5 linked regions of the Homo sapiens genome follow. The protein of the gene in region 1 purifies or fractionates together with the protein of each later gene. This does not show direct contact. Each region holds a gene or a part of one and is shown on either strand. Other genes may lie near its edges. The genes, in order: DCN, MRRF, LONP2, CHSY3 and ITIH2.

The links.
Region 2: the proteins of DCN (region 1) and MRRF purify together in Homo sapiens (co-immunoprecipitation; one large-scale study listed by IntAct). This does not show direct contact.
Region 3: the proteins of DCN (region 1) and LONP2 purify together in Homo sapiens (affinity purification with mass spectrometry, with the first as the bait; one large-scale study listed by BioGRID). This does not show direct contact.
Region 4: the proteins of DCN (region 1) and CHSY3 purify together in Homo sapiens (co-immunoprecipitation; one large-scale study listed by IntAct). This does not show direct contact.
Region 5: the proteins of DCN (region 1) and ITIH2 purify together in Homo sapiens (affinity purification with mass spectrometry; one large-scale study listed by BioGRID and IntAct). This does not show direct contact.

What each region holds. Positions count from the first base shown.
Region 1 is NC_000012.12:91,139,961-91,142,402, reverse strand, and holds the end of DCN (decorin isoform a preproprotein), read left to right. Parts: 3' UTR 1-1,919; downstream 1,920-2,442. UniProt on the Homo sapiens protein: May affect the rate of fibrils formation.
Region 2 is NC_000009.12:122,313,365-122,316,889, forward strand, and holds part of MRRF (ribosome-recycling factor, mitochondrial isoform 1 precursor), read left to right. Parts: coding exon 1-22; intron 23-3,525. UniProt on the Homo sapiens protein: Responsible for the disassembly of ribosomes from messenger RNA at the termination of mitochondrial protein biosynthesis. Acts in collaboration with GFM2. Promotes mitochondrial ribosome recycling by dissolution of intersubunit contacts.
Region 3 is NC_000016.10:48,355,075-48,357,874, forward strand, and holds the end of LONP2 (lon protease homolog 2, peroxisomal), read left to right. Parts: 3' UTR 1-1,590; coding exon of another isoform or gene 1,591-1,636; 3' UTR 1,637-2,275; downstream 2,276-2,800. UniProt on the Homo sapiens protein: ATP-dependent serine protease that mediates the selective degradation of misfolded and unassembled polypeptides in the peroxisomal matrix.
Region 4 is NC_000005.10:130,180,459-130,183,818, forward strand, and holds part of CHSY3 (chondroitin sulfate synthase 3), read left to right. Parts: intron 1-2,001; exon of another isoform or gene 2,002-2,301; intron 2,302-3,360. UniProt on the Homo sapiens protein: Has both beta-1,3-glucuronic acid and beta-1,4-N-acetylgalactosamine transferase activity. Transfers glucuronic acid (GlcUA) from UDP-GlcUA and N-acetylgalactosamine (GalNAc) from UDP-GalNAc to the non-reducing end of the elongating chondroitin polymer.
Region 5 is NC_000010.11:7,723,792-7,727,316, forward strand, and holds part of ITIH2 (inter-alpha-trypsin inhibitor heavy chain H2 precursor), read left to right. Parts: intron 1-3,158; coding exon 3,159-3,327; intron 3,328-3,525. UniProt on the Homo sapiens protein: May act as a carrier of hyaluronan in serum or as a binding protein between hyaluronan and other matrix protein, including those on cell surfaces in tissues to regulate the localization, synthesis and degradation of hyaluronan which are essential to cells undergoing biological processes.

The sequences.
Region 1 (2,442 bases):
CTTTATACGAAGGAAGAATTGCCTAATCCCTCAAGTAAACTAAAAATGTTTTATACAGTCATTTCTCATTCATCCAATGTTCCAGGCAGTCCCAGTCCAAGACTGCCCCTTCACACACACAACAACTCTTCACAAGACTTCACTGTCCTTCAGACTCTCCTGCAGCACAGACATTCGAGGTTGCTGAGTCGACATTGCAGTTATTTCACTCTTGATTTTGCTGCTCAATTTTAAGTTTCCACACTTATTGCTAAAACATTCCTTCTAGTGGATCTGTTTATGTATTCAAGCACACCATCTGTCACAATTATTTCAAATCACAGGTCTGTGACAGACTGTCAATTTCACACCACAAAGTATAATAGTGGAAAACAAAGTAAAATCAAGAAAGGGAGAACACTAAACTTATTAAAACCATATACAAGCATACGCATTCAGGAAACTAAAACAACCTTCAAAGAAGTTGAACAATTTTGAGCCAAAAGAAAGGGCATATGCACACCCTACCCCAGTATAAGATAACCAGAAAAGGACTGGGTGAGTTGCCTCCTGAGTATTATGACTGCCATCAATCACTTAGGCATTGGAGATCAGGAGACTCTTCCCAGGCCACACATTCTGCAGTGACTGTGAGGGCTGAATGAATGCTTCCAGGCCATCAGGAACAAGCATAGAAACACAAATCAATTTTAAAATACACTCAAAAATGTCAAAATAATCCAACTTTTTTGTCTTGATCAGATATATCTACTAGCACATATTACTTCATTTTTTCAGCCAATATTTATTAATAACCTACTGTGTGCTTGACAGTGTTCTAGTGGCAGAGACACAGCAGTGCATAATGCCTTGCCCTCTGAAGCAGATGTTGCAGCAGGAGGAGACATTCCAGGACATGACAATTAAAGTGGAGGAATGTCAAGCAGAACTGGGGAATAAGGGATGTGAAGGGGGTGAGACTTGCTATTTTATATAGGATGGTCGGAAAAAGGACTTATCAGGAGTGACATTTGAGCAGGGAGATGAAGAACTGAAGGGAGCAAGCCAAGAAAAGAGGCCCTGAATTTGGAAAATACATGGCACGTTCCAACAAGAGCAGAGAGGACAAACGTGAGCAGAGTAAAGTGAGCAAGAAGAGATAATATATGATACAAGGTCAGAAAGGTAATGACAATCGCATCCTGTAGGACTTTTTAGGCCATTGTAAAGATGAGCTTTTACTCTGAGTAAGACAGAGAGCTATTAGAGGGGTCTCGGTAGAGGAGTGACTTGATTCAACTGTCTTTGAGAGGATCCCTTTGCGTGTATAGACTGTAAGGTAACAGGAATAGGCCAAGAGAGAATATTTCGGATGCTAGTGCAATAATCAGGTGAGAGATGATGAAGACTTTGACCTGGATAATAGTAGAAAAATTGTTGAGAAGGGATCAAAATATGGGGTTTGTTTTGATGGTAGAGAGGCCAGGGATGGCTGAATGATCAGATGGGGCATGAGAGAGAAAGAAAAGAAACAGAGATGACTTCAGGAATTTTGGCCTGGGCCACTGGAAGGATGAAGTCACCATTTACTGAGATGGTAATGACTGGGAGGTTGAGCTGGAAGAACTGAGAATCAAATATCTGGTTTTGAATCTGTTCTTTTTGAGATGCATATTCAACTTCCATATGGAGGTGTCAAGGAGGATTTAGATCTAGAATTTTGGAGCTCAAGGGAAAGGGTTGAGCTGTAGACATAAATTCTAGAGATGCCGGAATATAGATTGTGATCCTTCTTTATCAGCACAGAAATGACTTGACTTTGTCCAAACTAAGCAATCATACTGTACATGTTAGCAACACATTTTACAGGGCCAATTTGGCCTTTTGCAATGTTCTGTGGTTTCTAAGATAAATAAACATATTATATGTTTCCCTCTGGATGCCTTTGCTATGATCCTGTCAGCATTTCCAAAACAGTTCTTGCTTGAACACCACCAAGGAAAGAAAAAAACCTCTTGAGAAAGAAATCATTGTTTTTTTTTTTTTTTTTTTAAATCCCTGTGTTTTGGCTTATGAGTTTAAAACTTACAAAAACAGTCTAGTTTCTGTTTTCTTCAAGAATTCACATTAACAAAAGTGTGGCTTGGTGCCTGTTTTGAATGTGAGTTGATAACTTGCTGGTGGTTTGACAGTTATAAACAAACAGTCTTATAGCATAAAGAAAGCATATTCCTGAAACTGCAGGAGGTCTCATTGAGCCTCAGGCACTATACCAGCATGTTTAACTAGAAAATCATGAAAACACATACAACTTCTATAGCTAAGGCCATTTTTACATGGAATTGCAGCATAAAATGACTCCATCTAATTCTGTAAAAGTTTATATTGATGACTACTTTATAAAGCACCCATATTGCCACTTGGTCTGACAAAGATATGTGAAAAATATAAAAAATTTCTTGA
Region 2 (3,525 bases), on another chromosome or scaffold:
CATTAGGCTAATAGAGAAACAGGTACTATTGCCAGCAATGTAGTAGTGTCTGTGTATTCAGCATAAGGAATCATTTGTTCATGTTTGAGGTGAGGACAGTTAAAACAGAATACCTCTGATCTTTCATTCACATTATCACCATTGTCTGAGTCTCTGTTCTGGGCCTAGCCTAATGCCAGATTCAGAGGGATCCATAGAGGAGGATAAGACACTTGTATTGTGTACCAGGTTTTGTGCTGAACACTTTATATTACTTCATTTACCCTCATCACTACAAAACTATGAGGTAGGTAGTAAGGAAACTGAGATTCAGGCAAGTTAAATAACTTGCCCGAAATCACACTGCTGGAAATTGGTAGAAATCGGATCCATACTTAGGCAGACGGATTTCAGAGCCTCTACGCTAATGCTCTCCTGTCTGGTTTTCCGGTTGCTGAGAATTGAGCACTTAGTGTTCTCAGTGTGCTGAGTAGTGGCACTTGAATAAGTCTTAAGCTGCTGGAGTAAAATAGTGAGAGACAAGGGGGAAAAGTGTAACCATATGTACAAAGGTAAGGTGATATAAAAACAATATTCAGTTAAGATCATTGGGGTTTGAACGTAGGATAAGACTAGGGAATGAATAAAGAAAACAGAGTGGCTAGATAATAGAAGGAAGGTCTCGTACACCAGGTTTAGGAGTTTGAACGTTAACATGTACAGACTGTCCCACATTGGCTGTGCATCTATATTAGTCATGTATGGCCACAATAATGGTACATAACTACCCCAAAACTCAGTGATCGACAATATCAAAGCATTATTTCTTGTTCTCATTTCCATGGGCCAGCTGGGGTGTAGCTATTCTAGGCTGGGCTCAGTGGGCTTGGCTCCAGATCTTGGATTGGGTTCAAATCTGCTTTATATCTCTCAATCTTCCAAAGCCAACAGGTTTCCTAGGGCCTCTTTTCATGGTAACAGCAGATGCCAAGATCATAAGCCCAACCACTCAAGTACATTTTAAACACCTGCTCTTGTCACATTTGATTGGCCAAAGCAAGTCACATGGGCCAAGCTCAATATGTTTGGTACAAGGAAATATATATATTTATGGAGGTCTGGGGAAAGAAGTGAATATTTGCTGAACAGCATCTCTCTACCAAAGTACCTTAATCACTTGGGTAGCTTATAAAAATCCAGGTATCTGGGGCCCCATTTCCAGAGATTGAGTCAATGAATCTGGGACAGAGCCAGGAATCTGTATTTTAAATCCTTCTCAGGTGATTCTCATACAGTGACACACTTAAAAGATTTTTTTTAGATGATGGAGAGAGCACATCTATGTTTATGAAAGATGACTATGGTGGCCAGGTAGAAAACAGATTGTAGGGGGCAAGACTGGAGGCAGGGCGATAGGGATGCTGCTGCAGAAATCCAGCCAGGAAGTGATGGTGGCCTGAACCTGAGTGGCACCTGTGGAAAGATGTGGAGATAGAATTAGTAATGTTCAATGTAATATAAAGGGTTTGATAGGCCTTAAAGCCTCCTCATCCACAATAAAGCATTGTTTTAGGGAGATTGAACAGGCATGTGGGCTGGATAGGGAGTGAAGAGAGAAGCGAGAAGCAAGGGACCCCTGGAGAAGTCCATAAGTTGACTAGCTGCTCCCCTTCTCCTCCACCAGCAGTTAAAATGCTAGTTTTACTAGCATTTTACTAGTAGGACAGCCACAACAGTCACCTGGGGGGGGGAATTTTAGGTGGCTTCCTGGGCCCTACTCCTGCATTTTCTGATACAGTAGCTCTGCCTAGGAATGTATATTTTTATTTTACTTACTTTTATTAATTCATTTTTCTTGAGATGGGGTCTCACTATGTTGCCCAGGCTGGTCTTGGGCTCCTGGGCTCAAGCAGTCCTCCTGTAGCTGGGATAACAGATGCGTCCAGCTGGAATGTATAGTTTTAAAAAGCTCTCAGGTAATTGTGTAAAAGCACACATAGAAGATAATGACCTAGAAGCCTGGTAATGTACCTGTGTAATGACACTAGAGTTAGAAAAAGATTGTTCTGCACTTGATGTCCTATGACCTTGGGGAAGTTGCTTGACTCTTTGGAGTCTGTTTTCTGTAAAAAGGGATTGGTAATTTCTGCCTTGAATGGTTTCCTTGGTATGCTAGAAAGCACCATTAGTGTACCTAACACCCAAACCCTCAAAACTCCCCTCTTGCCATCTCTCTGCCCTCCTCCTTCCCTGTATCAGCTAAAAGAAGAGGTTCAGAGATTAGGCGGGCCTTTCCTGTGCACTGACCAGGCCTCATTAATAGTCTGGGCCCTGGCTCCAGCTGGGCCGGCTCCTTGTCTTTCTCCTAGGGGATTTCTTCACTGCTTTCCCTTGTCATTGCTTCTTGGTGGTAAGCCTATGGACCTTCAGGGCCTGCCAGGCACTAGTCACTCAGCAAGCCAGGACATCTGCCTCAGGGACCAGAGCCCACAACTCCTGAAAGAGGAAGAATGATCAGATAGCAAGCATTCTTGATAAAACCCTCTTGACAAAGACCTTGCTGGAAGCCTTCACTCATTAGCACTGGCTTTTCGCCATCCTCTTCAGATTAAATTTTTTTTCTTTAGTGCTTCTTACTGTGATTTTTTTAAGTGAAAATAGCTGTATTCGTTTTGCTGTTAAAACAAGGAAGAAAGTAATTGAAATCTCATCACTCAGATGACTGTTGTTAACATTTTAGTGTAGAACTTCAAGTTATCTCTCGAAACAAGAAAAAGTATCATACAATTTATATGATACGATATATCACAGATATCTTTCTAAACATATTATTATTTAAATGTTTATTTTTATTTATTTTTTATTTTTGTCACCCAGGCTGGAGTGCAGTGGTGCAATCTTGGCTCACTGCAACCTCTACCTCCTGGGTTCAAGCGATTCTCCTGCCTCAGACTCCCGAGTAGCTGGGATTACAGGCACGTGCCACCATGCCCTGCTAATTTTTTTATTTTTAGTAGAGATGAGGTTTCACCATGTTTGCCAGGCTGGTCTTGAACTCCTGACCTCAGATGATCCGCCCACCTCAGCCCCCCAAAGTGCTGGGATTACAGGCATGAGTGCCCAGCTAAATGTTTATTCTTAACCAGGATTGTTAATAACTTAATTTACTGTCATAGAGTTAAAAGTTTGGAACAGTAGAGAGCCTTATATATACTTCATGGTGTTCTTTCTACTGTCAGAAGGCCCCAGACTGGAATTTTTGGTGTGTGTGTGTGTGTACGTGTGCGTGCATGTTTTAAAGATATAAAACAAGGTTATGGCTGATTGTCGCTTCATCAGACAGTTTTAAAATTTTGTTTACTTTTGTTCCTTATTATCAAAGTAATATATGTTCATTGGAGAAAGTTCATCCTCCCCTCCCACATTGGAGAGGCAACCGCTCTTAACATTTTGGAATATTTCTTTTTTCCTTTTTTCTAAAAAAAAAAAAAACTACATAGTTTTAAACATGATTGAGAACATATAGTATATATACAATTTTGTATT
Region 3 (2,800 bases), on another chromosome or scaffold:
TCTTGGGTATTATGAGTAATGCTATGAACATGGGTGTACACATCTCTCTTGAAGTCCCTTCTTAGGTCCTTTAGGGATACATATCCAGGAGCAGAACTACTAGATCACATATGCTAAGGTCTGAATGTCCCCCCACCAAATTCGTATGTTGAAGCAACCACCAACGTGATAGGTGAGGCTTTAGGAGGTGATTATGTCATGAGAGCTCCATCCTCATTAATGGATTTAGTGCCTTTATAAAGGGGCTCAAGGGAACCAATTACCTCCTTTTTGCCCTTCGATTCCCTTCCACCATATGAGGACACAGCAACAGGCCCCGTCCTAGAAGCTGAGACTGGGCCCTCAATAGATGATACCAGTCTGCCAGCACGCTGATCGTGGGCTTCTCAGTCTTCACAACTATGAGAAATAAATTCGTACTTTTAAATTACCCAGTCTCAGGTATTCTGTTACGGTTAACACAAATGACTAAGACAACAGGATAATTCTGTTTAACTTTTTGAGAACTGCCAAACTTTTCCACCGCAGCTGCACCATTTGACATTCCTTCCAGCAATGCACAAATGTTCCAGTTTCTCCACATCCTTGCCAGCACTCATTTTCTGGGTTTTTTATAATAGCCCTCCAAATGGGTGTGACGTATTTTGATTCTATGTCCCTAATGACTAGTGATGTTGAGCATTTTCTAGCATTGATTTTTAAGATGTTACCCAAAGACCCCTTGTATCAAAATAAGCTGGATTTTTTTATTGAAAATTATTAACTCTAGAAATTTTAGTTTAAACTAGACTTAGGGATATGTGTATTTTACCGGTATTCCACGTTTTATGCATGGGTTTTTAAAACTTCTCAAGTATTAAAACTAAAAGCTTTAGGTGCTTTGCTTATCAAGAAATCCTACACTGTCCACTGGAGACATCCATGTTTTTACTTGGCTCTGCCCCTTTAGTGGTCCCTGTGAACCTTACCTCAAACCATGCATCTGGGGCAGAGATCCTTACTTGCTTGGTGGTTACAAATGCAAATACAGTGAAGAATGTCATCTTTGTGATTGTTCCTGAAATAGTTCACGAGAAATCCATGACCGTAAAGTACTGTGATAGTGATGTCTACCACTGTGAGCTTCCAGTACTAGGTGATTGGTCTGCATTCACAGTGACCAAAATCAGCTATGTGGCCAGGTAATTCACTGCTGAGGGCTTTGGATTTTCCTTTATGAACTACTGAAATGAGGTCAACTTGACTATTACTAAGGGACATTTTGCTACAAAGAATGTTAGTTTTGCCAATTCCCTTTCCAAATCTAAAATTTATTTTAACCAGGATTTTAGATGTAAACATCAAGTAGTTTTGGTTGTTTCAATGAAGTAACATGTTTAAGCTCACATTATTTGAAGTACTTCAGTTCCTATTGCCATGAAAATTGTATCCAGCAGCTAAAAAAAAAAAAAAAAAAAAAGACTACAGTTAGTCATTATCCAATTTGATGATTTATGGTCCAACACTAATGCTCATTTTTTTTGTTTGTTTTACAAACATTTGGTGGATACCACAATGAAAACTGCACTTAAAAAACAAAAATGCTGAAAGAGGAAGGAAATATCAAAAAGGTCTGAATAGACAACAGGCAAATATGGTGAGTGGTCATTGAGATGTTTTAAAAGTTACAGCAAAAGGACTTCTAAAACAATTTTAGGAAAAGCTTTGTCATGAAAATTCATTTCTTTGGAAATACTGTAGTTTGTACTTAATGACACTGTCAGCACATTTCTAGGCAATACAAACTCTTGAGGCTAAATCCTCATCCTGACATGACAGTGCAAGCCTGTCAAAATGTGACCCCAAAACCAGGTGTCCTTTTGCTCCATTATTTATATCTGTAAACCTGTTATTATTTTCAGAATTCAGAAAGGCCTAAGAAAATTACATCTATGATAATAAAGTGTATTTCTTTGTCAAGTTTCTAGAGCTATATAAGGATAGCGAAAATATTTGGTTCAGCAAGACACTGGGGTATCAAGTCAGGCATAATAAGCACTTTATAGCACATCTAGCCTTCCTCATTCCCTTACGCAGTGGACATCATACCCTTTTGTGGAGGAGGGACCAGGCAGAGAAGGTATTTAAATAAAAACTGGTAGATACAGAGTCAGAAGTCAACCCAGGCAGTTAGAATCTACAACCCACACTGTTTGCCACCAAATCTTAGTAGATGCTTGATAAGGAATTTTGTTTGGATGGTGCCATTTTTAGATAAACGTACGTTTCTTTTGGTAAATTCAGGTTAGGATCATAAGCAGTAAACTACCAAATACTCCTTTGTGCTTTGAACATGCACACTGGATGAGTGGGGAGGGGAATGACAAAGCTTCAAACTCCGGGTCTCTGTAACACTCTATCTGTACCTTTCATGTTTAACCTACACAAATACCACAGTCCTGCGTGGTAGTTCACACACACTATTCACCCTGTCGAGTTTCGACATTACTTTTATGTCCATTCTAATGCAGCAGTCACAGACTGACCCCCCAGGTATGTTGGATTTGATCCATTATTTTCTTAATTTGGATTACTTACCAATTCTTCTAATCAGGAGTGTGAATGAAATAGAATTCTACCATTAGTAGAATCACTGCAGATGTTTCTAAATATGAAGAGCTTTTGGGGGTTGGAGGCAGCACACTATTATTTTGGTGAGCTAAGCTATCTACAGCCACTTACATACGTTTGAAGTTTGCAGAAAGGTGGGTCTTAAAATCATACATATTACAATAAAAATTACTCACAAAGGAAAAACTGT
Region 4 (3,360 bases), on another chromosome or scaffold:
TTACAAATTTTCCATTGCTCCAAAAGTTACCTTGTGCCTATTAGTAATCAACTCCTGTTTTGTTTTTGTTTTTTGTTTTTTGTTTTTTTAATATTTTAAAGTTTCTCAGTTAAGACTGGGCACGGTGCCTTATGCCTGTAATCCCAGACCTTGGGAGGCTGAGGTGGGAGGATCACTTGAGCCAAAGAGTCCAAGACCAGCCTAGGCAACATAGTGAGACCCATCTCTACAAAAGAAATTGAAAAATTAGCCGGGTGCGGTGGCATGCACCTATAAGTCCTAGCTACTCAGGAGGCTGAGGTGGGAGGATTGCTTGAGCCCAGGAGCACTGCAGTGAGCAGAGATCAGGCCACTGCATTCCAGCCTCGGCGACAGAGTGAGACCCCATCTCAAGAAAACAAAAAACAAAAAAGTTTCTCATTTATATAGCTATGATCATTTCAGAAATGACCTATGCTATGTTTTCATTATTAATAATTCTAAGAAAGGTAATGAAAGTTTAATGCGGTAGAAGAGTAAATAATTCAACATAAAACTACCTCTTGGCATTTATTCTTCTTCTGTTAGGTTTTTTGAGAAGATTTTCCTAGAGGCTCTCAGATAATCTTTCTCAGAGGGTGAGATCATGTGTGATACGCTTAAAGCACTGGGGTCAGTCGGGGCACACTGGTGTTCATTGCTGCTGTGATTTTGTTGTTGTGAAATGATTTTTCTTTGCCGTGTAATGTTCTGGAGGTTCCATGAAATCCACTGATAATTCTTTAAAGGAGAGGAAGCCAGCTTAAACTAAAGGTTCTTAATTATTTCAAGCAAATTAATATAATTTTTAAAATAAATTTTACACATATTTTTCTTAGAACAATTTCGCTATGTTCAAAATGTATCATGATCTATAGAAAAACTGAAAATCATGAGAATTCTAGTTTTAATTTTATTCTCATCATTCTCAATAGACACTTGGGTGAATAACTCTGGGAAAATCTCTCTGATATCTTCTCTCTCTCTCTGTCTCTCTCTCCAGGCCCACATATCCACACATTTATGAACATACATGTCAGAAAAGCATATCTAATTCTATGTGCATATATATGCATACTTTCAAAATAAAGTCCTTCATTAATTGGAGTATAGCAGATAAATATATCTTAAGCAGCAGTTCAGTGAATGTTCACATATTAAATGCACACATATGACCACCACCTGGATAAATAAAAGAACATTACCAGCACTCCAGAAGCTTCCCTCTTCTTGATTCTTGATCATTATTCCAACAGCAAACCATATAGGTTAGCTTTACCTGTTTCTGAATTTCACATAAATGGAATAATACAAAATGTATATGGCTTCTTTCATTTTTTGTGAGATTCATCCATGTTGTTGCAAGTAGTATTTCAAGTATTTAATTGATGTATTGTTTTTCATTACATGAATATACTACATTTATTCTGTTCTTGATGTAAATTTAGGTTATTTTCAGTTTTGGAGTATGAATAATGCAGCTACGAAAATTATTCTATATATATTTAGGTGTATGTATGTATATATATATATGTATTTCTATTGGGCATATATCTAAGAGAGAATTACTGACTCATAGGGAATATGTATGTTCATTTTAGTTGATACGGGTTTTCTCAGTGATAGAACCAAGTTATATTCTCACTAGCAGTGTATGAGAGTTCCAAATTTTCCACTGCCTTCACAATGCACAGTATTATCTATCTGTTTTTTTGTGGATCCATCACGTTATCCCATAGTAATTTTAAGTTGCTTTACCTTGATGATGAATAAAGTAGAGAATGTTTTTATATGTCTATTGAGTATTTGCATACTCTTTTGTGAAGTACTCATTCAGGTTTTCTTTGTCACTTTTCTGCTAGGTTTGTCCTTCCTTTTTTCCTTATTTGTATAAGTTTATTATATGTTCTGGGAATTGGTTCTTTTTCATAAAATCTATTGAATTTTTTTTCTCCTGCTCTGTAATTGCCCTTTATTATTTTCCTAATGGTGTTTTTAAAGAACAAGGTTCTTAACTTTAACATAATGTAATGTATTAGTCTGTTTTAATGGTTAGTGCCTTATGCCCTATTTATAAAATCTTCACATACCCAAAAGTCTTGCAGATATTTTCATGTAAGTTCTAGAAACTTTTTAAAGCCTTTTTCTAAAATAAACCTTTATGTTTACATCAACAGGTCATCCATTGTAGGATGTAGGGGATCCGTTTTTACTTTTTTCCCTTATATGAATATCCTACTGATCTGGCACTAATTACTTAAAAGACCACCCTTTCTCCAAACTGTAAGCTCTATTTTATATTTCTATTACTTTGCTAATTTTTTTCAAGTCTCTTCTTCCTACGTTTTTCACAAATCTCTTTTTATGCTTCTTGCAATATGTCTATCAATGATTTTATTTTTTTCTCCCTTTTTTCCTTAGCCCTGCCAGTTTACTTTTTATCTTTTTTAAGCTTATTTGTCTATTAATTGAGTTTTTTTTTTGAAGAGGCTGTTTTTTTAAATTTATGTACAATTTGTACCTGCTTCTGATGAGTATTCTTAAGTTTGCAATATTTCTTTCTTCTTATTCATCAGTATATTTGCAGACATGGTGCTGCTGGCCTTTTTTCTTCTTTTTCACCTCCTTCTCCTCATCCCCTCTTTTCTTCCTTCTTTTTATTGTTCATAATCACGTATCTCGAGTGGGTATAATGGAGGTGTCTTAATCGACTGGCAGAAAAGGAAGAATCAGCTGGCGGTTTGAACTTTGTCCTCATAACTACATATTTTTTTTCATTTTTGTTTCTGCCTGAACTAGTGAATTTGTTCTAGACTAGCAGAAAGTCTTTTTGTTTCATAAGGATGTCAAGCATGTCTATTTTGGGTATGATACTTTACATCAGGAGTGTAGATCAGTATAGTTTCCGTTTCACCTTATCTTACCAAGAACTTACTCGGTAAAAATAGTATATCAGGATGCTAAATGAAATTTACGACTCCCCTGGCAAATAACTTCTTATTGCCATTCCAAACAACAGGTCATTGGTTTTCCTCCTTAGGGTGAATCCTTATTTTGGAAGACTCATGCTGTGTCCATTCTGTCTCTCTCCTTCTCCGTGATCTGTTATGGGGTTATGGACACAGTCAATTGTTGTTTTATGTATAGCTAGAGGTTCATTTGCAATATTTGAGCCTATGAACCTGACATTTGTGCTCTCACTCATATATAGAAATCAAAAAGTTGATTTCATAGGACTAGAGTGTGGAATGTTGGTTACCAGGGGCTAAGCCAGCTGGAGAGAGGGGTTGGGGAGATTTTTGTCAAATGATACCACATTTCAGTTAGATAGGAGGAATAAAT
Region 5 (3,525 bases), on another chromosome or scaffold:
TTCTCTTCTTCCTCTTTCCTGTTTCCTCTTCCTTCTCTTTCTCTTTTCCACTCTCTATCCAATATTTCCTTGAAAAACTGTCTCAAAACTCACCTCTTTGAAAAACAGAATCTCTATATAACCTCTTCTTTCAAGGATCAGTCACATTCTTTTTGCTCTTCCACATGTTTTATTATAATATCTTGTCATTGTCCACATATGACTATTGATTCAATATATACATATTATTTCTAATTATATGGTAATTGCTTGAGAGCAGCTATCCATCTTATGTTTTCCAGCTCAGAGCTCAATATAGGCTTACTTAGTGATAAGTGAGATGTACAGATGCAATACTAAAGACCAAACAAGGAAATGATTTAACTTACCCATCAATCCATCCATCCATTCAACCAAGTTGAACAACCAACTAACCAGTCATAGGGCAACTATTTTTGACCACCCAAGAGTTCACTACTACCCTAAGATCTGTAAGGAACCTAAAAGAAGTCCCTGTCAGCCAGGCACAGTGGCTCACGCCTGTAATCCCAGTACTTTGGGAGGCCAAGGCAGGTGGATCACCTGAGGTTGGGAGTTTGAGACCAGCCTGACCAACATGGAGAAACCCTGTCTCTACTAAAAATACAAAATTAGCCAGGCGTGGTGGTGCATGCCTGTAATCCCAGCTACTCGGGAGGCTGAGGCAGGAGAATTGCTTGAACCCAGGAAGCGGGAGTTGCAGCGAGCAGAGATCGCGCCATTGCACTCCAGCCTGGGCAACAAGAGCGAAACTCCATCTCAAAAAAAAAAAAAAAAAGAAGAGGAAGAAGACGAAGACGAAGAAGAGGAAAAAGAAGACCCTGTCTTTCACAGACCCTGCCTGCCTGGGTCTGTACTCCCAGGCAGGGTTTCTCAGCAGTGGGACTATTGATATTTTGGATGGGGTCATTCCTTGTTGTAGGAGGGCTGTCTGGTGCATTGCAGGATACTTAGCAGCATGGTCTATGGTCTATTTGCTAAATTTTGGTAGCACAACCTCCCCTGCATCATAACAATCAAATATAACGTCAGACATTGCCAAATGTCCGCTGGGGGGAATAATTGCCTCTGGTTGAGAAACATTGCTCTAATACAACAGTTTATTCACTGCTTCCTTCCTTCCATCACTCATTCATTTAACAAATATTTACGAAGCACCTACTATGTGTCATACACTTAGTTCATCTATGAGCAAAACAGACCCAAAGCATAAAAACAGAAACCAAACAAAAAACAGAAAAAAAACGGATGCCTACCCTCTGTGTGCTTATGAAACTTACATCTGAGGGATAGGGGACAGAGAATAAACAATACACATGCAAGTACAAATGTACAAGTACGTTCAATGGCAGCATTTTGATAAAAGTTTTTTTAAAAAATAAAAGAAGCATATGTTAAAAACCAAGAGTGGCAATTGCAGGGGTATGCAATTTTAAATAGGCTTGTCATCTAAATAGGTGGTTTCCTGGAGAAGACCTCTGAGGAGACCCTGAGAAGGTGAAGGGAGAGTTGTGCAGATATCTAAGGGAATTAAATGCAATGAACAGCTCATGCAACAGTTCTAAGTCGAAAGTGTGCAAAGAACAGAGAGAGATGCCAGTAGAGAGGGGCAGTGGGAGATGAGATCTGAGAAGTGAGAGGCAAGGTGGCTCATGGAACACCTGTGCAGTCATGATCAGAGCTGGATTCTGGAATCTGTTTTGAAGGTAGAGTAAACAGTATATCCTGAAGGGCTAGCTGTGAGGCAAGGGAAGAAAAGAGAAGTGAAAGATGCCCCAGGACTTAGCCTGAGTGACTAGAAGGATGAAGTGGCCATCCATGAGTTGACAAAGACAGAAATGTAATCAGACATTGCAGGGAATGTCCCAGTTTGGTTTTGGATGCAAAGTCTGAGATTTCTATTAAGTACCCACGTTGGCCATGGAAGCGTGGTGTTCAAAAGTGAGATGTGGAGACACACAGTTAGGACTCCCCAGCATATAGAAGGTACTGTCAGCATTGGGACTAGGTGAGAATGCCGAGGAGTAGATGGACAAGGGAGCCAAGATCAGACAACAGAGCATTCCAATATTGGGAATTTGGGAAGAAGAGGATAATTGGTGATAGAGACTAATAAAAACAATTAGTAAGTGGGGGAGAAAAATCAAGAGAGAATGAGGCCCTGGAAGACAATTGAGGAATTTGTGTTCAGGAGGGAGATGAGAGCACTTGCCGGTGCATGAGAAATGAAGATGGACCTTTGGATTTAGTGACATTAGCATCATTGGTGACCTTGACAAGGGCAGTTTCAGTAGAGTGACAGGGATGAAAACCCGAAAGGATTGGGCTTATGAGAGAATAGGAAGAGAAGATTTGGAGACAGTGTGTTTAGACAATTCCTCAAGGAATTTTATTGCAGAAGAAAGCTGAGAAATGAAGAAAGTGGATGCACATGAGGTTTGTAGAAGGGTGAGAAATAACATGTTTTTGTTGATGGAAATGTACCAATAGAATAGGGAAATTGAAGAGGCAAAGGACAATTGCTGGAGCCATGATCTTTAGTCAAAGAGAGGGAATGAAATAGTTCATGAATAGATGGGTTTGCATTAGGTAGAAATACTGCTAGTTGTTCTTTATTATCAGGTAGGAAAGAAAAATGTATGGGTACAAATATTGATGGTTGGGATTTTATGGTAGTGGGAGTCTGTGGGAATGTTCTTCTGTCTGCTGCAGTTTCTCAGTGGAGTTGGAATCAAAATCATCACACGTAAGCTAGAGAAAGAGGGTGATGGTGGTGGTTTAAAGAGAAAGATGAGGAAATAGTTTAAGAGACTGGGTGAGTAGATGGACTTGAGAAATGTATTTTATTTTCAGGCATCATAAAGGTGGCACTCGAAGTTTGTGATCCTTAACATAAAGACTAGTCAAACTGGTTGTGCATAGCAAAATAGATAGTAAAATTATCAAAAAGCCAACAGTACATGCCCAGAATAAATAAGGGGCAGGTCTGCATTGACTGAGGTGGGCTCAAGAGGTTTTCTGGAAGAAGTTTAGCTTGAGAAGAACTTGAAAGATGACCAGGATCAATGATTGGTCTTCCTAGTTCCTCTGAGGCTCAGATTTTCTGTAATGGGACCTGTCTTTATTCTCTATTGAAATAGACTGTGGAAGCAATGAAGACCATATTGGATGACCTCAGAGCAGAAGACCATTTCTCTGTGATTGATTTCAACCAGAACATTCGAACTTGGAGAAATGATTTAATTTCAGCTACAAAAACACAGGTTGCAGATGCCAAGAGGTATATTGAGAAAATCCAGCCCAGTGGAGGTGAGTGTGTTGGGCTAAATCCCAAGGAGACACTTCCTCTGGGTTCAAATCATGATTCACTTAAGAAGCATTATTCCCATCACAGTGGTCTTTCCCCAGCATTCGAGGGCCTATCTTAAATAATACATTTATTGGTAATGGATGAATGCTAAGTTTGTAGTGAAAGTAGAATTTGTAATACAGCCCACATAAGCTTTG